Linked DNA regions of Homo sapiens. The protein of the gene in region 1 purifies or fractionates together with the protein of each later gene. This does not show direct contact. Each region holds a gene or a part of one and is shown in the gene's direction. Other genes may lie near its edges.

What was found. Proteins that work in one complex are often made in the same cells at the same time.
Region 2: the proteins of SIN3A (region 1) and ARID4B purify together in Homo sapiens (affinity purification with mass spectrometry; 5 studies listed by BioGRID, with this or other methods). This does not show direct contact.
Region 3: the proteins of SIN3A (region 1) and CSNK2A1 purify together in Homo sapiens (affinity purification with mass spectrometry; 5 studies listed by BioGRID and IntAct, with this or other methods). This does not show direct contact.

Annotation. Positions count from the first base shown.
Region 1 is NC_000015.10:75,448,691-75,457,049, reverse strand, and holds the start of SIN3A (paired amphipathic helix protein Sin3a), read left to right. Parts: upstream 1-5,359; 5' UTR 5,360-5,627; exon of another isoform or gene 5,628-5,690; intron 5,691-8,359. UniProt on the Homo sapiens protein: Acts as a transcriptional repressor. Corepressor for REST. Interacts with MXI1 to repress MYC responsive genes and antagonize MYC oncogenic activities. Also interacts with MXD1-MAX heterodimers to repress transcription by tethering SIN3A to DNA.
Region 2 is NC_000001.11:235,166,402-235,171,725, reverse strand, and holds the end of ARID4B (AT-rich interactive domain-containing protein 4B), read left to right. Parts: intron 1-3,073; coding exon 3,074-3,201; 3' UTR 3,202-4,824; downstream 4,825-5,324. UniProt on the Homo sapiens protein: Acts as a transcriptional repressor. May function in the assembly and/or enzymatic activity of the Sin3A corepressor complex or in mediating interactions between the complex and other regulatory complexes.
Region 3 is NC_000020.11:498,791-506,336, reverse strand, and holds part of CSNK2A1 (casein kinase II subunit alpha), read left to right. Parts: intron 1-1,107; coding exon 1,108-1,219; intron 1,220-6,402; coding exon 6,403-6,504; intron 6,505-7,031; coding exon 7,032-7,082; intron 7,083-7,546. UniProt on the Homo sapiens protein: Catalytic subunit of a constitutively active serine/threonine-protein kinase complex that phosphorylates a large number of substrates containing acidic residues C-terminal to the phosphorylated serine or threonine.

The DNA of each region.
Region 1 (8,359 bases):
AGCAAATGAGGCAAGGAAGGATCTGAGTCAAAGCTTTGACTTGAGGGCTGCTGAAGGTGGGGAAAGCTTTCGGATTGGGTGGCTTTGATAGAGAAAAGAAGCCTTCTCTTTCCCCAGCTATTCCTTCCACAAGAGGCACTTCTGCAGTCTCCAAACGCAGTATTACAACAGCCTCTGGGCCTCCCCTTGCTGCCTATAGGCACTTCTCTCTCAGTGCATCGTCAGAACCCATCTTTCTGCCAGGGTGCCAAACATCTTACACTATAGTTCTGGGTCTGTGGGCCTTGTGACCGTGCTGCCTGCACATTCTGCTGCGCACGTCCAAGAATTTTACTCAACTAAAAGTCTTAAACTGTTTGTTCCATCTCCCCACCCCTCCTTTTTTATTACTACAGCCACATATGAAGGTCCTTTTTTGCATTCACCCCTTTGTGTCCTTTGATGAAAATGACCTGCCCCTCCAATTTGCTGGATGAAATCTTTAAGACCCAACTTGAATGCCACCTCCTTCATGAAACCTTTCCCAATTCTCCTTCAGCGAAAAGGAATCTCTCTTCTCTGAGCTCCTATTTACATACACATTCCTATTTTCATACACATTCCTGCCTTGCCTTAGTTCCTTACGTAGAATCTCCTCGGCTGAATCTGGAGCCCTTGGAGGGGTAGAGTAAGCATGTCATCCAGTCTGTAATTGCACCCAGCAGCAGGTACGTATGAATGTCTGCCTCACCCACAGTAGGTGCTCAGGCAAGTGCCTGTTGCCCGCGGACGCAGGGCTTCCTGTTTGCATCACTCATTTTTAGTCGCCTAACAGAGCGGACCGAACACGGTTAGGTCACACAGCCACAGGAGTCTGCCCACTCCAGCCAGTGACTAGGGTGCTCCTACCCTTCTCTCCTACCTAGTTCCAAATGGGTTGTGTGTGTGAAGGAAGTTGGGGCCGGGTAGCTCCGCTGGCTCGTCCTCCGCGTCCACCCAGCGGATCTCCGAGTCCCAGGCGGCCTCCCCCCAGTCCGAGGACCTCAAGAAACTCGAGTCGGCGGCGAGGGAGCTATATGGGCCTCTACCACGGATGCGTCTCCCACTCGCGTTTAGTTTAATTAATTAATTTATATTTTTTGGAAGGAGGGGGCGTTCAATGAAGGGGAAGAGGCGGGGCGAAGGGCGGAGGCGGGCCCAGGGTGACTGACGTGAGCGCCGGGGAGCCAATAGCCCGTGGGGGGCGTTCCCCCCCATTCAGGACTCCTCGCCTGGCTCGGAAGGTATGTTAAACAGCTGCTTTTAATTTGGTCCCCCCAATCTCAGGCGTTTGGGGGGCTAGTCCGCCGGCCGCTCGGTCTGGCCGGCCCGACGTGGTGTGGGCCCTGCGGGCCCTGGGACCGAGCTGAGGGGAGGCTCGGAGTTCCGCGGCCGAGGTAGGCGAGGGACAGGCCAGGAAGGAGAGCTCTTGGCGCCGCCCGCTCGCCAGTGTGTGTGTTTCCCAGCCTGGCCGGAGCCGTGGGAGAGGGGTGGGCCTGGCCTGGGGTCGTCCCTGCGCCGGCCGTGTAGCCTAGTTTATCTCACCGAGCAGTCGGTTTCGGTAGGTTTTGGCGGCGGACTGGAGAAGGGGCGGGCAGGAGACCCCCGACTCCTGTTGTGCCGTTTTTTTAAAAAGAAAAATACTGGAAAGAAAAGGGGGATTCCGCACACCGACTAGAACCGGGCCGGAGCTGCGGCGTGCGGGCTCGGCAGGGGGCGGCGGCTCGAGCATGGTCGGCGGGGCCCACTGAGCTCGCGGCGCTCGGAGTTGCTCGAGAGCTGGAGTTAGCGAGCGAGCCGGGGCCCGCGGCTTCCCTGGCTACCCACGCTGGACAAGGGCGGCAGCCGCCCCGAGGGTTTTGTTTTTGCCCGCAAACTTGGAGGGGGCGGTGGGCGCGCTCCGGAGAGGCGCGGGCACTGTGGGCCCGCGGTTGTTATGGACTCTGGGGGCGGGGGCAACACCGGACTTGCGGGAGGGGCGGCCGGGGGCGGGAGAGGCCACCGGAAAGAGCCCCTGCGCCTCGCCGCTAGCCCTGCGAGCTGCCGGGTCTCCAAACTCCCTGGCCGTGGCGGTCGAGTCAGCATTCGGTGCCGGAACCCGTCAGGCCGCGACCCAGCAAGGAGCTCGCATCGGTGGTGCGGAAAACCCCCAGAAACTCGGCGGCTTCGTCCGCGGCCCCGGCTGATCCCCTTGCAAACATGGAGCTGCCTGCTTCCCCGCCCACCCCAAGGCGGCGGCGGCGACTGCTGCTCTCTTCCCCTCCCCCGACCGTGCCGCCGCCGGGCTCCCCCTTCCCGCGAGGTGCTGCTGCGGACCGCTCGGCGCGGATGGGGCGGGGGCGGGGGCGCGGGCGTGTGCGCGCCCACGAGGGGGTGGCCTGAAAGGGGCAGTGAAGGTCGGAAACTGGGAAAACAGTCTCCACGCTCGGAATCGGGAAAAGGAAATGCATCAGCGGGCGGGGAGGGGCGCGGGGGGCGCGCCTGTCAGCCGGGATGGCGGCCGCGGGCGGGTAGGCGGGGCGCCGGCGGGAACCGTCCCGGCCGGGCGGGGCGACGCCGGGAGAGGCGGCGCAGGGGCCCAGTCCACCGAGCGCCGGGCGGCCCTTGCCTGCACTCCTCGGCCCAGACTGTTTACTATCTACTCCGCCGGCGGCTTGTGCAACCCGCCTGCAGGGGAGCTGAGGGGCGGACCCCTTTCCTCTCTCCCACCCACCTCCGGCTCTCCCGGAGGCCCCGCCTTCTCTTGTCTTCCACTGGCTAGGCGAGACTCCCTTTTTTTCTCCTTCTTGGATGTGGATTGGATGACATTCTCCCGAGCTCCGCCTATCGGGAGGCCGGGCTGGAGTTTAAGTTGCTAGGATTTTTTTTTCGCGGAGGGAGGAGGGACGGTTCTTGCGGATGACGTGAGGCGCAAGGTCCCGCCCCCGCCTCTGATTGGTGGGGCGGGTAGCCCGGCCTCCTCCGGCGGAGAGAGCTGGGAGGGGAAGTCCACCCTTGCTCCCCGCCTCCCTCCGCTCTTGAGCGCGCTCCGCACATGTGTGAGGCCCGCCTAGCTCCTTCGAACTGCCCTCCCGCCCGGAAGTCCTAGGCTCGGCGCCCTTGGCGAGGGGGGCGGGGAGAGCCGAGAAGCCACACAAAGGTTCCACCGAGGCTCGAGACCTAGTAGCCTTCGGGGTGAAGCCAGGGGATTACAGTGCGGAGTGGATTTCGGGAGCGAAACTCCGGAGGTTCTGCTGGGTTTGAGATCTGCCTTTCGGGGCCGGGGCCAAGTACTAAAGTTCTAACCCTGTCGCTTGGCTATTTCCGTGCCCCTTGACTTCCCTGAGCTTAAGCTCGAGAACTCTGCAGACGCTGCAAGTGTCTGTTCTTTCCTAGGCATGGCAGCGGCTGTCCTTAGTTGGCTGTATCTGAGACTCTGACAACCTAGTGCCCTGGCCTGGGGCCCTTAGGCGAGATCTTAGCGCAGGTGGTACCCTGTGTTCACGGGAAGTCGTGGGCGGCCTAATGCTGGCTTGGGTTCTGAGTAGTTCTTGATACCATGGTGGGAATGCCCTGTGGTACTCAGTCTAGTGGTGGAAGGCGGCGCAAAGTTAAAAGTAGCCGTGGGTCAGTTCTGCTGGAGTGCCGCTTCCTCCTAACCTCCGAGCAGTTTGGCCCTGGGGTCGCTTCGTTGGTCTGACTTATTTTTAGAGCTCTGTCCTGGGGCAGGGCTTGGCTACTGGCGAGGCTGCTCCCACCTGTCGGCTACCCTTGGAGTTCACAATTCGCTGCTGTGGTTTCGCGGCTCGAAGCCATCGCTGGAGTCAGGCCCACCTGCTGCCAGAGCTCGTTCCTGGCCGTTTCCGCTGGATTGCAGAGGGAGGACAGTGTTGGACCTAGGCGTGGGTTCCCTGGGCGTGTCCCTTGGGGTCTTAGCTCTCTGGGAGGAGGGTTCTACTTATTCGGGAGAGCGGTAACAACGTAATCCCGTCACCTCTCCTGGCGCTGAGAGAGCGCCCCCCAAAGTAAGATCAGCGTCAGGCCCACGCCCTATTTGGTGAATAAATAAAAGCAAACTAGGAATTGAAAGCACTTTGTCTCACTGTGTGTTCGAGGCACTGTTACCTACACAGAGAGGGCACAGGAACTGCTATTAACACTCCCGGCCAAGGAGAAGGTGAACAGCCGTTATCTTATGTCCCCAACTACGGAAATTTTATCCATTCTCTGAGTGTGGCATGTCCCCAATGTTAATTTATGCCGTGGCCTGTTTTGGTGTTTTCCTCTCCTTTCTCAGTTCTGAGGATGCCTCCAGATCCACCCGGGAGATCGTGAGTACCTTGTGCCTCACGCTCCGCCTTCCGGAGGCTTGCCAGGGCGGTGGCTGTTAGAGCCCGCCTCTCTTTTGGTTATCTCCGCCCTCTTAGGACTGCATATTCAGCTCTAGGGAGTTTACTTCTCCGCCTAGGTCTCCAGACCTTAGTTCTGTACTCTACTTGGCTGAAAGGAGTTGCCAGCTGCTCCGGATATTTGTGTTTACAAGGACGCAGTGTGTAGAATGTAAACTGTAAAGATAACTGGACGGAAGGATGAGTTCTCATTCTCTCATTTTTTTTGTGAGGGAGTCCTCCATGGTGGGCTGCCTTTCCTTCAAATCCTAGGATGTGGAGTCTCCGCTGATGAGCTCCGCTCCCCCTCCTATCTCGGGCCCTGGAACTCCGAGCTTCAGTCTCTAGTGTAAACATTCCACAAAAGGACTGCTAAGGTTCAGCCTCCTCGCGCAGGGTGGAATTAGCTCCTTCCTAGACGGGCGCCCTGGCCAATGGAGGGTCCTACCAGCGCCAAGATATCCAATCCGACTCTTGGGGCGGGGCCTGGCCCGGCAGTGCGGTAGGCGGAGCCTGTTTCACTTACAGACATTTTACCCCACATCGGTTACTTACCTTACTGGGGCGGTGGGAGAGCCAGGGGTAGCCTTCCAATGCGATGACCAGCGGAGGCGGGAGCCAACTTGTTAGGCCTGTGGCTGAGACGCTGCAGGGCGGGTTATGTGGTGTCCTCCAATGAGACAGGAAGAGCTTCCCTGCTTCCTCCAATAGTGTTGGGGCTCGGGGGTGGGCTTCAGCAGTCCGTCTCCAATAGGCGGGGTTGAGTTAGGGAAGCTCCCCGCCAATAGGGGCGTGGAGAAGGAGAGCGGCTCCCCCTCCCCTACCAGTCGAGGGGGAAGGGGCGGGAAAATCATAAGACAGGCCTCGGTGGTTGGCTGAGTCTTTGACGGGCGGGTATTGCGTCCTGTATTGGAACGAAGCTGAGTCTTCCCTCTGCGGGGCGGGGTCGGGGGAGTGGGCGGGATTTCCCGGGTAACAGAGAAGCGGCCGCGGCGGTAGAGGCGGCGGAGACGGTTTCTCCATCTTCCCCCCTCCCCTTCCCCCCTCGGAGTTTCCCTCCCTCCCTCCCTCCCTCCTTCCCAGTCTGGGCACCGGAGCCTGTGACCGCTTCGTTAGTGGAGAGGTAGCTGGCAGTCCGCTTCGGCGGGCCTGTGCCCCGCGCCGTTCTCGGGGCCTCCCTGCTGAGCTCGCGGCTCACGCTGAGAGGGACACGCAGTGACGAGCGGCCGAAGCAGCTTTGCGGTGAGAGCACGCTGGGCCGGGGGCCGGGCGGGAGCCTGGTGGCGGGTAACGCCGGACTCGAGGGTGTGTATTTTGGGGGGGGGGGGCTGACCTCCTCGGCTTCCCGTAGAGCAGACGGGCGGGAGGTGTGTGGTTGTGTGAGGGGGGTGGGGGGCGGAGCGGGGTAGCTCTCCGCGCGGGAGGGGGAGGAGAGCGTAGTCCCGGTGCGCGCGGAGGGGGGCGGGCTCTCGCGCCGCCGCTCAGAGGCGGGGCCGGCGCGCGCGTGCGATTGTGGAGAAAGGGGCGGGGCCGGCTTCGCGCTGAGTGCAGTTTGCGGCCGACCACCCCCTCCCCTCCTCCTGGGGTGGGCGGGGCCTCGGGCTGGCGGCCGCGCTCTGGCCTGCTGGGGTCGGGGAGGGGTAGGGGGGGGTCTCCCGCGTGTAGATTCAGGGCGCGGCAGGGAGGGGGCGTGAAGTCTGAGTTCCTCCGCCTTCTTGGGATCCGGTTGGCCGGAGGGGCCGTACTGATCCGTGATGCCACTCCCCTTGGCCGTCCCCCCCTGCACCCCGCCCAGGCCCCGGGTTTCCGCCTCCTTGGCAATGAGGAGGTGCTAGGGAAAGCCCGCTGTCGGGTCTGGCTGGGAGTCTCGGCGCCTAGATCTGCCCCGCCCTATGTCTCCGTGGGGAGGGAGGGGCACCCGCCGACTGGGAGCTGTGGAGGTGTCAGGACTTACTCTTGTGGCTGGGTCATGCCTTCTGCCTGGGGGCACAAGGGCCCTGTGCCGGAGCTGCTTTCTCCGCTTTGCTCCATGCAGCGTGTCTGGCACCGTGCAGCCAGGAGAGTGGGAGCATGGTCACCCCCACTCCCCTCTTGGTTGTAACTATTGGGGCGAAGTGCCCAAGGTCCTCTTGTAGGAGCGTGCGTGGCTGGTGCTGGAACCCTAGATCCGCGGTGGTGATGGTAGGGGAGGGGCAGGGAGTCATCAGAGACTAGAAATGTGGCGGAGGGAAAACCTTCCCTGGGGTTCCCTTGATGTTCAGTTACCGTGGCTGTACGGGGCGGGGCTTCCTTTGAGCCAATGGGTGGTGGGTAGTAGACTTGGCGTCTGTTTCGGTGCGTTAGGACTTTAAACGAAGTTAGCCTTGAAAAGGCAGTGGAAGCTCCTCCTCTTTACAAGGCTGAGATTTATAACAGGAAAGTTTGGATTTACATTTTAATCTCAAAACTGGTCTGTTTATAAAGTAGGGTTTGTTTTTTTTTTTTAAGAACTCAGACTTTGAATAAAATACTCCGATATCTCTGACAGTTGTATTTTTGAATGCTTTCATTGTGCACATGGTTCTGCTATATAAACTTAGTTTCCTGGACGGGCGCGGTGGCTCATGCCTGTAATCCTAGCACTTTGGGAGGCCGAGGCAGGTGGATCACTTGAGGTCAGGAGTTCGAGACCAGCCAGGCTTACATGGCGAAACCCTGTTTCTACTAAAAATACAAAAAAAAGCTGGGCGTGGTGGCAAGCGCCTGTAATCCCAGCTACTGGGGAGGCTGAGGCAGGAGAATCACTTGAACCCGGGAGGCGAGGGTGCAGTGAGCCGAGATGGTGCCATTGCACTGTAGCCTGGGCGACAGGAGCAAAACTCCGCCTCAAAAAACAACCAAAAAAACTTGGTTTCCTAAAGAATTTGCTATTTAGGTAACTATAGGTGAAAAGTCTTTTCTTTTTTATTTTATGTACTTATGTTAGACCATCTAGACCACTTTCTATTTATACTCTACATAGTACAGTGTTGTTGCCCTTTTTATTTCAGAGGAGGGTGGAATTGTGGATCAGGGTAGCCTTCTGTATGTGACTTCTGTAGCGTTGCCCTCCAGCCTGTATTGGAGAGTTGCCTTAGGGCATTTCAGATTTAGATAGCAGAACCACATTAGATGAGGTTTTTGCTTTCACTTGATACATTATCTTTTCCTATTGAGAGAAATTATTTCAATGTTTTTCACATTTTTCATGAGAAAAATAAACATGGAACCAATGTTTATTTATGCAGTAATGTCTAAATGAGCCTCTGGTTAATTATCTGAAGTGAAATTCTAGATTTGTGCTTTGGTTAGTAGGGCCTGAGTGGTACCCTGTGCTATATTTATGTGAAAAGGGTAGGTGGGTCCTACCTTCTCTGCTAAGGAAGTTGCAAAAGCAATAGCATTTTAGTTTAGCAAATGATGGCTGTAATAGAATTGGTGGGGAGACAAAAAATCCAGGTGGTTTTTTCTGATGCCATAAACTGAGAGAGATAGTGGAGAACGATTGACCATTGAGGAAAATTTGGGCTACATATATAGTTCCCATGATTTGCAGTGCTGTATACTGGGGAACACAGAAGAGTCTATAAGGATTCAAGTAAGAACCTGGTTTTGCTGTATTAGGAACATTTTCATAAATGCTTCATAATCTCCAGATAATTATTTTATATACTATAATTTTGTTCAGAGATAAATAGCTTAGAAAGATTGGCACTTCGTAATTAAGAGGGTTTTAATAATTTACATACAGAGAAAGACTTTTTTTCTTTTTTAAGGAAGGAGGTGTGTAGTAATTTGACAAGATTCCTGGTGAAGTATAATTCTTTTTACATCTTCAGTGGGAGCAGACAAGACACTGGAGAGCTGTGCATGGCAGATGTTAGTACCTGGGAATTTTAACTGGAATTAAGAGGTTATATCCCTGGCATTCAGTAGTTTAGCATAGTGCTTTTCAT
Region 2 (5,324 bases), on another chromosome or scaffold:
AGATGTTGCAGTGAACGGAGATCATGCCATTGCACTCCAGCCTGGGCAACAAGAGCTAAACTCTGTCTCAAAAAAAAAAAGACATCTATCCAGAAACTCCTTCTAAACAATGTTTTGTAAATATAGTCACCACAAATTCTTTATAATGAATGATTTTGCTAAATAGAGCCTCTCTACTGGGTTAGCATTAAAAGTCGGTTCCTAAATACTATTTTAAGAAAAATCCATAGGAAAATGCTTATCCTGGTTACCAAAGAAATGCAAATCAAATAAGGTATCATTCTTTTTTTTTGGAGATGGAGTTTTGCTCTGTCGCCCAGGCTGGAGTGCAGTGGCGCGATCTCAGCTCACTACAACCTCCGCCTCCTGAGTTCAAGCGATTATCCTGCCTCAGTCTCCCGAGTGGCTGGGATTACAAGCGTGCTGCCACGCCCAGCTAATTTTTTATTTTTAGTAGAGATGGGGTTTCACCATGTTGGCCAGGATGCAGGATGGCTCGATCTCTTGACTTCGTGATCCGCCTGCTTCAGTCTCCCAAAGTGCTGGGATTACAGGCATGAGCCACTGCGACTGGCCCAAATAAGGTATCATTCTTACCAAAAAAATTAAAACTAAAACCAATGCAGGAACAGTGTAGTGAAATATATAAGTTATGAGTTGTAATATAGTAGAATATTACTCAACTTTGAAAAGAAAAGGATCTGTATGTACTGATATGGAACAATCTCTTAAAATATATTGTTTAAAAAAAAGTCAGACACTGAACTATGCTTCCACTTGTGTGTGTGTGGTTTTTTTTTTTTTTTTTTTTTTTTGAGACGGAGTCTCGGTCAGTCACCAGGCTGGAGTGCAGTGGCGCGATCTTGGCTCACTGCAACCTCTGCCTTCCGGTTCAAGCGATTCTCCTGCCTCAGCCTCCCGGGTAGCTAGGACTACAGGTGCGTGCCGCCATGCCCAGCTAATTTTTGTAATATTATTATTAATTTTTGAGACAGAGTATCTCTCTGTCATCCAGGCTGGAGTGTAGTGGTGCAATCTTGGCTCACTGCAAGCTCCGCCTCCCGGGTTCACGCCATTCTCCTGCCTCAGCCTCTCTAGTAGCTGGGACTACAGGCGCCCACCACCACATCTGGCTAATTTTTTGTATTTTTAGTAGAGACTGAGTTTCATTGTGTTAGCCAGGATGGTCTCGATCTCCTGACCTTGTGATCCGCCCACCTAGTCCTCCCAAAGTGCTGGGATTACAGGTGTGAGCCACCGTGCCCGGCCTCCACTTATGTTTTTAAAGGTGTTGCTATATCTATATATTTTAAATTTGCATATCATATCTCTAGATTCTAGAGATAAAATTCCTGTAGAACAGGGGTTGCAAACATTTTCTGTAAAGAGACAATAAATATGTTAGGCTTTGTGGGCCATGTGGTCTCTGTAGAAACTACTTATCTCTGCCATGGTAAGTGTGAAAACTCCCATAGGCAATATGTAAACAAATAGGCATGGCTGTGTTCCAGTACAATTTTTCTTTCCAAAGACAAGTAAGCCAGATTTGCCCCTGGGGTAGTTTTTTTGCCAGCCTTTTTTCTAGAGTTGTAATGAATATGAATCAACTGGTAGCAATGGGGAAGGGAATTTGGGTGATTAGGAGGTTCCTGGATGAGAGTGAGATTTGCTTTTCTATCCTATTACCCCTGTACTGAATGAATTTTTTAAATCTGTGCATGTATTTAAAAATATTAATTTATGAACACTAATTTATAACAGAGAGGCCGGGCGCAATTGCTCACGCCTGTAATTCCAGCACTTAGGGAAGCCAAGGCAGGCAGATCACCTGAGGTCAGGAGTTCGAGACCAGACTGGCCAACATGACGAAACCCCATCTCTACTAAAAATAGAAACATTAGCCGGACATGGTGGCGCATGCCTGTAATCCCAGATACTCAGGAGGCTGAGACAGGAAAATTGCTTGAACCCAGGAGGCAAAGGTTGCAGTGAGCTGAGATTGCACTGCTGCAGTCCAGCCTGGGCAACAGAGCAAGACCCCCATCTCAAAGGAAAAAAAAAAAAAAGGAGGCTGAGGCAGGAGAATGGCGTGAACCTGGAAGGCGGAGCTTGCAGTGAGCCGAGATCGCACCACTGCACTCCAGCCTGGGCGACAGAGTGAGACTCCGTCTCAAAAAAACAAACAGGCTGGGCGCGGTGGCTCACACCTGTAATCCCGGCATTTTGGGAGGCTGAGATGGGCGGATCATGAGGTCAGGAGATCGAGACCATCCTGGCTAACATGGTGAAACCCCATCTCTACTAAAAATACAAAAAAATTAGCCGGGCGTGGTGGCGGGCGCTTATAGTCCCAGCTACTGGGGGGGCTGAGGCAGGAGAATGGCGTGAACTCAGGAGGCAGAACTTTTAGTGAGCCAAGATCGAGCCACTGCACTCCAGCCTGGGCGACAGACAGAGCGAGACTTTGTCTCAAAAAACAAACAAACAAAAAAAAACGAAAAAAGGAAACAGTGAGAGACTTCCTCTGATGAAAATAACTAATGTGTTATTTGCTTTGTAAACCTAGTGGCGGAGAATGCAACAGTTGAGCTATGCACTGTTTTGATCCAACTTGAAGAAGCAATTAAGCCTCCCACTCTTGTCACCATTTACATGTACAAGAAAACTCCTAAGTACAGAAAGATGGAGGGATTAGGAGGGGACAAATGATTTTTGGATGGATTGCAGATTTTTCCTGTTTTGATACTTGTTTCACTGTTACAAAAAGTGTATTCTGTATTTTATTTCTGTGTCTTGTAGACTAGGCACAGTTCTTTCCCTCTTTGACCCACGCAGGAGCCTTCCCTGGTCTGTCCTTTTCATTACTTCTGTAGTTGGGCACTGTCTAGCTTCTTGAGCTACACTAGCTTTTCCTTTCTTCACATCGTAGAACTGTGAGAATTGACCACTGTTGTTGTAAGCTAAATGATTTTGGACAATATAGCGGAATTTTAGTTCAGAGGACTAGTATTTTCTGTCTATTGTTAGACATAAATTTTTATTAAGCTCTTGGTTTGGTCTCCCTTTTCCTTAGGTGCTGCTACATCCTCATCCTCCTCTTCACCTTCATCCAGTTCCATAACAGCTGCTGTTATGTTAACTTTAGCTGAACCGTCAATGTCCAGCGCATCACAAAATGGAATGTCAGTTGAGTGCAGGTGACAGCAGGACTTGCTAAAGCACTTTGCACTTAATGGCTGTTGAGGGCCACTTTTTTTTTATACTGCACAGTGGCACAAAAAAATATCAGACAAGCACTATTTTATATTTAAAAATTGTTTCTTGACAAGCTGACTTGGCACTTAAGTGCACTTTTTTATGAAGAAAAAGTACAATGAACTGCTTTTCCTCAAGCAATAATTGTTTCCAACTTGTCTGGGAATTGTGTGTCTGGTAACTGGAAGGCCTTCCACTGTGGCAAATGGAGGCTTTTCACTGCCTGTAGAGACAATACAGTAAGCATAGTTAAGGGGTGGGTCAGAACATGTTAAGATAACTTACTGTATATGTATTCCCTTGTATTTTGTTAAAGCTGGAACATTTGATATTTTTCCATTTATTTATGAAAAAATATGAACCTATTTTCATTTGTACAAGGTAATTGTTTTTTAAAGCAAGTCACCTTAGGGTGGCTTTAATTGTATAAGTCAAGCACATGTAATAAATTCAAAACCTGCAGTTAACAGGATATTAGACATCAATCCTGGTAACCAAATATTAAAGATTCTCTTTAAAAAAGACTGAACATGTTTACAGGTTTGAATTAGGCTAAAAGGTCTTGCAGTGGCTTTTCATGGCCCTTCAAATTGGAATGGAACTACTGTACTTTGCCATTTTTCTATAAATCAGTATTTTTTTTTAATTTTGATATACATTGTGTGAAAAAAGAAAATGGCTAATAAACTGTATTAAATCTTAAACAATGTATAAAGATTGTACTTAGCCAGTTCAAAGTGTATATTTATTCATAATGAATTATAACAGTTATATTTTTGTGTTTTCTTGTAAATGTTTCTTTTCCCTTAAATACAGATAATTCATTTGTATTGCTTATTTTATTATGAGCTACAACAAAAGGACTTCAGGAACAAGTAATGTATTAGTATGGTTCAAGATTGTTGATAGGAACTGTCTCAAAAGGATGGTGGTTATTTTAAATATAAATAGCTAATGGGGGTGGTAGGCCTATAAAATTAAATGCCTTGTATAAAATCCAAAATGAATGCAAAATTGTTTTCACTTGTATTGACTTTATGTTGTATGATTCCAATCTCTGTTCTGTTTGGCACTTGTATTTAATTCTTCACCTTTGTAAGACATTTGTATATTGTGGATGTGTTCATTCAAGCTATTTAATATCTGGCACTGTTAATACACAGTACTTTATTGTACAGACTGTTTTACTGTTTTAATTGTAGTTCTGTGTACTTTTTTTGGATGGGGCTGGCATGTTTTCTTTGTTTCCTGGCAATACGACGTGGGAATTTCAATGCGTTTTGTTGTAGATGCTAACGTGTCAGAATCCTTTACATTCAACTTTTCTAAGAAAAGCATTTTCAGTCTTGTAGTGTGTGCTTACAGTAACTAATTTTGTTGAAAATGGTTTCAAGTTATTCAAATTTGTACAGGACTGTAAAGATTTGTTGACAGCAAAATGTTGAAGAAAAAAGCTTATAGAATAAAAGCTATAAAGTATATATTAGGATCTGCAAACAATGAAGAATTATGTAATATATTGTACAAATGTAAGCAAAGGCTCTGAAATAAAATGCCATAGTTTGTGAATCCTTGATTTTTGTTTCTAAAAGATTTAGTAATTTTAGTTCATTTCTGTATGTGATGACTGACTGGAACATACATATCCAGCACGTATTATCACAGGGGATTAATTGATACACAAAAAAAGGAAGATTCTACCTATGAAAATTAAAAGTCCATTAATCAGATAAGGAATGTATTAGGCATTCTTTTTTTTTTTTTTTTTTTTGGACACGGAGTCTTGCTCTGTCACCCAGGCTAGAGTGCAGTGGCGCAATCTCCAGCTCACTGCAACCTCTATCTCCCGGGTTCAAGCAATTCTCCAGCTTCAGCCTTCCGAGTAGCTGGGATTATAGACATCTGCCAGCACTCCTGGCTAATTTTTGTATTTTTAGCAGAGACGGGGTTTCACCGTACTGGTCAGGCTGGTCTCAAACTCCTGACCTCATGTGATCCACCCACCTTGGCCTCCCAATGTGCTGGGATTACAGGCGGGAGCCAACACACCCAGCCTAGGCATTCTTTTA
Region 3 (7,546 bases), on another chromosome or scaffold:
ATACATTTGAAAGCCATTTACCTTCAAAGAGGCCTGTTAAAAATCAGCTGCTGCCAAAGTGTGGCTAGATTGAAACAGTCTTGCAAAATGTTTTTAGTTCCTGCTAAGTGCCAACACTGGACCAAGCACTAAGGGACAAGAATATATAAAAATTATTCTCCGGCCGGGTGCGGTGGCTCACGCCTGTAATCCCAGCACTTTGGGAGGCCAAGGCGGGCGGATCACAAGGTCAGGAGATCGAGACCATCCTGGCTAACACGGTGAAACCCCGTCTTTACTAAAAATACAAAAAAATTAGCCGGGCGTGGTGGTGGGCGCCTGTAGTCCCAGCTACTAGGGGAGGCTGAGGCAGGAGAATGGCGTGAACCTGGGAGGCGGGGCTTGCAGCGAGCCGAGATCACGCCACTGCACTCCAGCCTGGGCGACAGAGCAAGACTCCGTCTCAAAAAAAAAAAAAAAAAAAAAAATTATTCTCTTGGGGAAAGCTGTCTCTTGTTGGAGACAAACGTATTTAGAACAAACCTTAATACAAGCCAGCTCCATGTCATGTGCCAATAAAGATGTAAACAGTTTGGGATTAGAAAGAATAATTGAAAGGTATAAGTTTTTCTAATTCTAGGATTTGAAACACACGTATTTTAATTGGCCTAATTTAAAAAAAAAAAAAATACAATGGGCCAGGCGCGGTGGCTCACGCCTGTAATCCCAGCACTTTGGGAGGCCGAGGCGGACGAATCACGAGGTCAGGAGATCGAGACCATCCTGGTTAACACGGTGAGGACCCGCCGTCTCTACTAAAAATTCAAAAAATTAGCCGGGCATGGTGGCAGGCGCCTGTGGTCCCAGCTGCTCGGGAGGCTGAGGCAGGAGAATGGTGTGAACCCGGGAGGTGGAGCTGGCAGTCAGCAGAGATCGCGCCACTGCACTCTAGCCTGGGCGACAGAGTGAGACTCCATCTCCAAAAAAAAAAAAAAAAAAAAAAAAACCTATTTGGGAATTGTTTGAAATACTTCTTATTTCTATTACAGCTGCTGGTAATAGATTCCTGTAATTTGAATTGATGCTGATAATTTGACCGTTTATAAGTCATTTTGTTTGTGTCCACAGAAATCAAGATGACTACCAGCTGGTTCGAAAATTAGGCCGAGGTAAATACAGTGAAGTATTTGAAGCCATCAACATCACAAATAATGAAAAAGTTGTTGTTAAAATTCTCAAGGTGAGTACAAGAGATAATTTCAGAGGTATTTGGAATATAGATTTTTAAAAGTAGTTTTGAAGACTTTTTTAAAACAGCATTTAAAAGGTTTTTGGTGCCAAAGCAAATAAATAAAATTTTATTGTATCCTATGAACTCAATAGAACAAGTTCTGCTTATTTGACAGATCGGGAAACTGAAGCAAGAGAAGTGATTTGAGTTGACTCATATAGCTAGGTTGTGGCAGAGTAAGGGAGCAAAGGTACAGTCTCTTCTCTCCCAGTTATTGCCTAATACTTATTTCCTTTACTTTTCATTATATAATGAGGCTTTTGTTTTCAATAAATAAATCATTGCCTCTACTTTGTAAAGATGAGGAGTCACAGGACTCGAGGGGGACAGACAGATGATATTAGTGCAGCTAGTCGGGTGTAATTGCCCTTGCTTAGGTGATGTGAGTGGTAGGGACTGAAACAAACTGGGAAACACATGCCTCTTCAAAAGGAGTTAGCTGCTTCTCAGCTGAAGCTGATGATTGCCCTGCAGTAATGCAAGTCCATTGTTGCTTGATACTCTGTTTTGCAAATAAAAGCCAGAAATTTATATTTGTATATGAATTTTCCTGACTTTTAAGTGTTGGCTCAAGATTTTAAAAAAACAATGCACAGGCCAGATTTGGCCTCTGGGAGACCAATATACAACTTTTAATTTAGTTATAACTATGCTGTGCACTGTCATATATTGGGAACTTAGCATATAGTTCCTTACCACAGGAACTTTTTCATATTTGACACTGAAAAGTAGAAGTTTCCAAACTTTCTCAATTTATAACACTTATACTGTCTTTAATTTTTCACGGTACTCCTAAGTCAAGAAATACCTCATAGTTCTCTGTATTAAGTAGCAAGGTCCAAATAGCTAAGTAAGTTTTGTTTTTTTTATTGTTTTTGTTTTTGTTTTGAGAAGGAGTCTCGCTCTGTCGCCCAGGCTGGAGTGCAGTGGCGCGATCTCGGCTCACTGCAACCTCCGCCTCCTGGGTTCAAGCGATTCTCCTGCCTTAGCCTCCCAAGTAGCTGGGACTACAGATGCACGCCAGCAATGCCCGGCTAATTTTTGTAATTTTAATAGAGACGGGGTTTCACCATATTGGTCAGGCTGGTCTCAAACTCCTGACCTCAGGTGATCCGCCCGCCTCGGCCTCCCAAAGTGCTGGGATTACAGGCGTGAGCCACTGCGCCTGCCCGCTAAGTATTTATATCTTAGCAACTTGGTAGCCATTTAAAAAGTTATTCACATAAATTAAAAGAAAAAAGTTAAATTTGTTCTTATATAACTATAATTTGTTACTGTTGGGTTATGTAGACCTGTTGCTGCATAGCTTTTCAAATGTTGTCATTGGTTGGACACCACCACCCTCATTTCCTGTCATTGATTTTTGTGCAGTACTTGCTTTTTACCACAGCAACTACTGCAAACCCAGCTTCACAAAAATATGCCATCGCGAGGAGTATAACACAATCCATCACGAGGAGTGTAACACAATCTAATGTTGAAACTACGAACCACCTCAAGCTGGCAGTGCACCCAGTGTCTGGCAGATTCAACGATGGGTTGATGTGTCTTCCTCAAAAATGTAAAGTGTTCCACAGTATTCCTGTGCATTGCTGGGGTGCTTCACATGCCCTTTGAGAACCAGAGAGTTTAAGTATTTATATCTGTCTTGAAATATGTAGAAAGAGAACTAGGTTGGAAATCAAAACATGTGGGTGACTAGCCATAGTAGTCCTTTTAACCTAGGACATGTTTATCCATCTATTAAAAAGAATGTTGGCTGAGCATGGTGGCATGTGCCTTTAGTCGCAGGTCCTCGAGGGGCTAAAGTGGGAGGATCGCTTGAGCCTGGAAGTTGAAGGTTGCACGGATCTATGATCAAACCACTGCACTCCAGCCTGGGCGATGAGAATGAGACCCTGTCTCAAAAAACAAAAAGGATCAAACACAAAATTGTGTGTATATATACATACGTTGGAGACTGGAGTTCTTTGTGATTGTATGGTGATATTCATATGGAAAGGTATATGATAGAATGAGGTGATATATTATTATTTAGAGCCACATGAAAAGCATGCATAGTGGGTCTACAGTTCAGAAGAGGGTAGTAGTTAGGAAAAGCTCCCAGGAGCTGTCTTCAGGCTGAATGGGAGGAGGATTTGGATAGGTGTTGGGTGGAAGTGGTGAAGGGAAGCAGGCTGTAGAGTGCACCAAGATAAGAAAAGAGGAGGAGGGAAAAGTGAGAGAAATATTTCATGTGAAAGATGTTATGTGACCATACATAGGAGTTGAACTTGGAAAGAGAGATTAAGTTGGCGAAGGCCTGGAAAAAATAATCTCTGCATTTCCTTGCAGTCTTAAAATTATATGACTATCTCTTCTAGGTAATTGTGAGCCCTTGATGATTTTGAATGAAGGGTGATTTAGAAAGATTTTTTTCAGCTCAGTCTTTCTAACTGTATTGTATATTTTACTGTAACTGTGGGTAGGTGGTGTAAGTATAGATGAATTTCCTTTGTAAACCATATTTAAAATTTTTAATCTCCCCTATTTAATAAGACAAAAGTTGCATTGATCGCATTAAATTCGGGCCTGAGTCAGCTGCCTGGTCTGTCACAAACCAGCTTTTTAAGTTTATAGATTTGAAGCATTCTGTAGAGTAGTTTTGTCAACCAGAAGCTTTTTTTTTCCACTAAAAAACCAGCAGTTGGGTTAATGGAAAACAGGAGGTAAGTTGTTGGGTTAGTCTCTGCAGGGTGGAAAGATCTCCCAGATAATATAACAGTTTATAAAGATCTGAATAGTTGAAGCAGGAAGAGAAGACTTATATTATCTTGTTTCTTAGGTAGATATTGTATTGGGTAAGAGGTCGTGGGTTGAATTCAATGGACTACATGGAAGTCATTAGTAAAATAGCTTCTGTTTATTGGGTACCACTTTGCATTGGACCTGTTCTAACTGTGGTATGTAAATCACTAACAGGCGAGTATAGTCCCTTTCAGCAGTGAGAAACATTTAAATGCTTTTCTGAACACTGCACAACCACAAAGCCAGGTTTTGAGAACTGTCAATGTTTCCAAAATCTGCTTGCTTTCTGCTATCATGTGCTTGAGGCTTAAGACAAAGTTAAAAGAATTTATAGTATTATTTGGTAGTTTCTGGACCTGGATCATCAGCCTGGAAAGTATCTAAAAATAAATCCCCCGTTTCCCTCTCAAGATTTTGATTTAGTGAATCTTGGTGGGTTCTGTGAGTCTGTATATTAAAAAAATCCAGGTGATTGTTGGTCATCAAACTTTAGTAACCACCAATCTTGTTAATGAAGAGATGAGATGTACTTAACTTCTAAGAGTTATATGCAGTGCATCTAGTCTGAGGTGACCAACACCCTAGGAAAAGACCTGCACAGTCCAGTACAGCAGGCACGCAGGCCACATGAGGCTGTTAAGCACTTGAAATATGGCTGGGCTGAATTGAGATATGCTGTAAGAGTAAAATACATTAGATTTCAAGGGTTTAATACAAAAAAAGGTAAAATAGATTAATAATTTTTATATTGATTTATATGTTAAGATTTTAGATTAATAAAGTACATTAATTTTGTCCTTTTTAAAATTTTCTTGATGTGGCTACTAACACATTTAAAATTACACATGTGGTTTGTATTATATTTCCTTTGGGCCAGCACTGTTTTAGACTATTCAGGAGAAGGCTTTATAATATAAGCCCAGGCACAGTGGCTCATGCCTATAATCCCAGCACTTTGGAAGGCCAAGGCAGGCGGATCATGAGGTCAGGAGTTCGAGACGATCCTGACCAACATGATGAAACCCTGTCTCTACTAAAAATACAAAAATTAGCTGGGCATGGTGGCTGGCGCCTGTAATCCCAGCTACTCGGGAGGCTGAGGCAGGAGAATTGCTTGAACCCGGGAGGCGGAAGTTGCAGTGAGCTGAGATCATGCTACTACACTCCAGCCTGGGCGACAGAGCAAGACTCTGTCTCAAAAAAAAAAAAAGGCTTTATAAAGGAGGTGCAGTGGGACCAAGGCCCTCCTCAGAAAAAAATGAAAAGGATTCCATACTAGAACAGATGTGGAAAGAATGGGTAAGGACAAAGGAATGTTTAAGATATGCTCTGCAGAATACTCTTTAGAATGGAGGGGTTCATTTATAAGAGTATTGGCACTTTGGGAGGCCGAGGCAGGCAGATCACGAGGTCAGGAGATCGAGACCATCCTGGCTAACACGGTGAAACCCCGTCTCTACTAAAAATACAAAAATTAGCCTGGCCTGGTGGCGGGTGCCTGTAGTCCCAGCTACTCGGGAGGCTGAGGCAAGAGAATGGCGTGAACCCAGGAGGCGGAGGTTGCAGTGAGCCAAGATTGCACCACTGCACTCCAGCCTGGGTGACAGAGCAAGACTCTGTCTCAAAAAAAAAAAAAAAAAAAAAAGAGCATTGGTGATCAGGCTAGACAGTTATTATTATGTTATGTTTCAGCCATATTCCGAAATCTTTCGAATACCTCATTTGATTCTTGCAACAATCTTATGAGATGGGTACTCTTGTTACTCATTTTACACTTAATGAAAGGCTTAGAGAGGTTATGTAGTTTGCCATTAACAGCCAGCAGGTAGTAAAGGTAGGTTTCACATTGGGCATTGTGACTCCAAGACTCACCCTTTACCCTCAGGGTTGTGCTACACAAAGATGTTTTGGCCATCCTTGTTGTTGGCCCTAATTAGAGGAAGAAATGGAAAGGGCCCATGTTTCATCCTAATTGATAAAAAGTTTGATATACTTTAGTATTACTAACGATTTAAATTGCTACTTTGTAAGGTTTTAAGACATTAACATGTTTAACATGTTTTAAAACATTAACATCAAGACTGATGATTGAAATGCTAATTCTGCAGAAGTGTCTGGTCTTTGGAATAGAAATCTTTTTTTCTTTCAATTCAACATTTGTAAGTACCTGCAGAATACCTGGCACAGTGCTAGGAGAAGGATTCAGAGACGAATGTGACACATTTTCTTCCTTCAAGGTGTGCTCATAAGTAAGCCATTTATCATTTATGTATTACACTACGTGTTGAAATACTCTGAAAAAATTTTTTTTTTTTTTTTTTGCTGATGTACTTTTCCCCTTTCAGCCAGTAAAAAAGAAGAAAATTAAGCGTGAAATAAAGATTTTGGAGAATTTGAGAGGAGGTCCCAACATCATCACACTGGCAGACATTGTAAAAGACCCTGTGGTGAGTATAGTAGGTGTTAGCAAGGCCCGCCAGAGCTGAGATGGTGTTTGACCTGGAGCACAACTGGCCTCTTTTTGTTCCCTCCCCCAACCCTCATCATTAAGTCCTGCTTTGAAAGTGCTTAATCAGATATACCATTTAACTAGCTTGGGTCTTTCTTTCAAAGAGACCTCCACCCACAGACTATTTCTTATTCTTCTAGGCTAAGAGACTGATAGCACTGGAAACTGAAATGTGTTAATCCATTTTGCAAACTCAGGTCCGATGCCGATGGGCGATGGGCGCATTGTCGGGCTGCCTAGAGCCTGGTGAGACTTCAGCTCCATGTCTTCTGTTTGAAATCCATCCCAAAAATGACCTAAGTGCGGTGATGATCAGAGCGGGGAGGGCTTGTAGCAATAGAGGGTTTCTTACTACTGAGGCGAGGACTGCCAAATTTCACCACGCAGCATCCGCAAACATTGTCCCCATTAAAGCTGTCAGGGCTATTGCTAATGTGTGTTTTTGTTTTTGTTCTTTTCCCCTAGTCACGAACCCCCGCCTTGGTTTTTGAACACGTAAACAACACAGACTTCAAGGTATAATATATAACCAACTGTTTCGGGCTAGTGGGTTTTTAGACCACATAGCCTTTGGGGATGATGCTGTTAGAAGAGCTTGCTTCGCATTTGTTTTTAAAAAGCTTTTCATCCTTACAGTGCAAATTTTAAGATAGAAGAACTCCTATATAAGCAGTGCCCACTTTCTGCATCTTGATATTTTGCCCATTTGTTTAATGTTCTTTTTAATGACCAACACATTGACTTCTCACTACTTAGTTGACAGTTTCTGCTGATGTCCAACCTAATGAAGGCAGTAACACACGTTCACTTAGGATCTGGCCATATGGCAATTCGCTTTAAACAATAGTGTTCAGGAAGAAATATATTGTATGTATAAAAGTAGGGACTGCTTATTTCTTAGGATTCCTCATAAACTGTGGGCTATAGATCTTAAAAGGCAGGGATCGAGGAAGGATAATGTCAAATTCTGCCATAACACA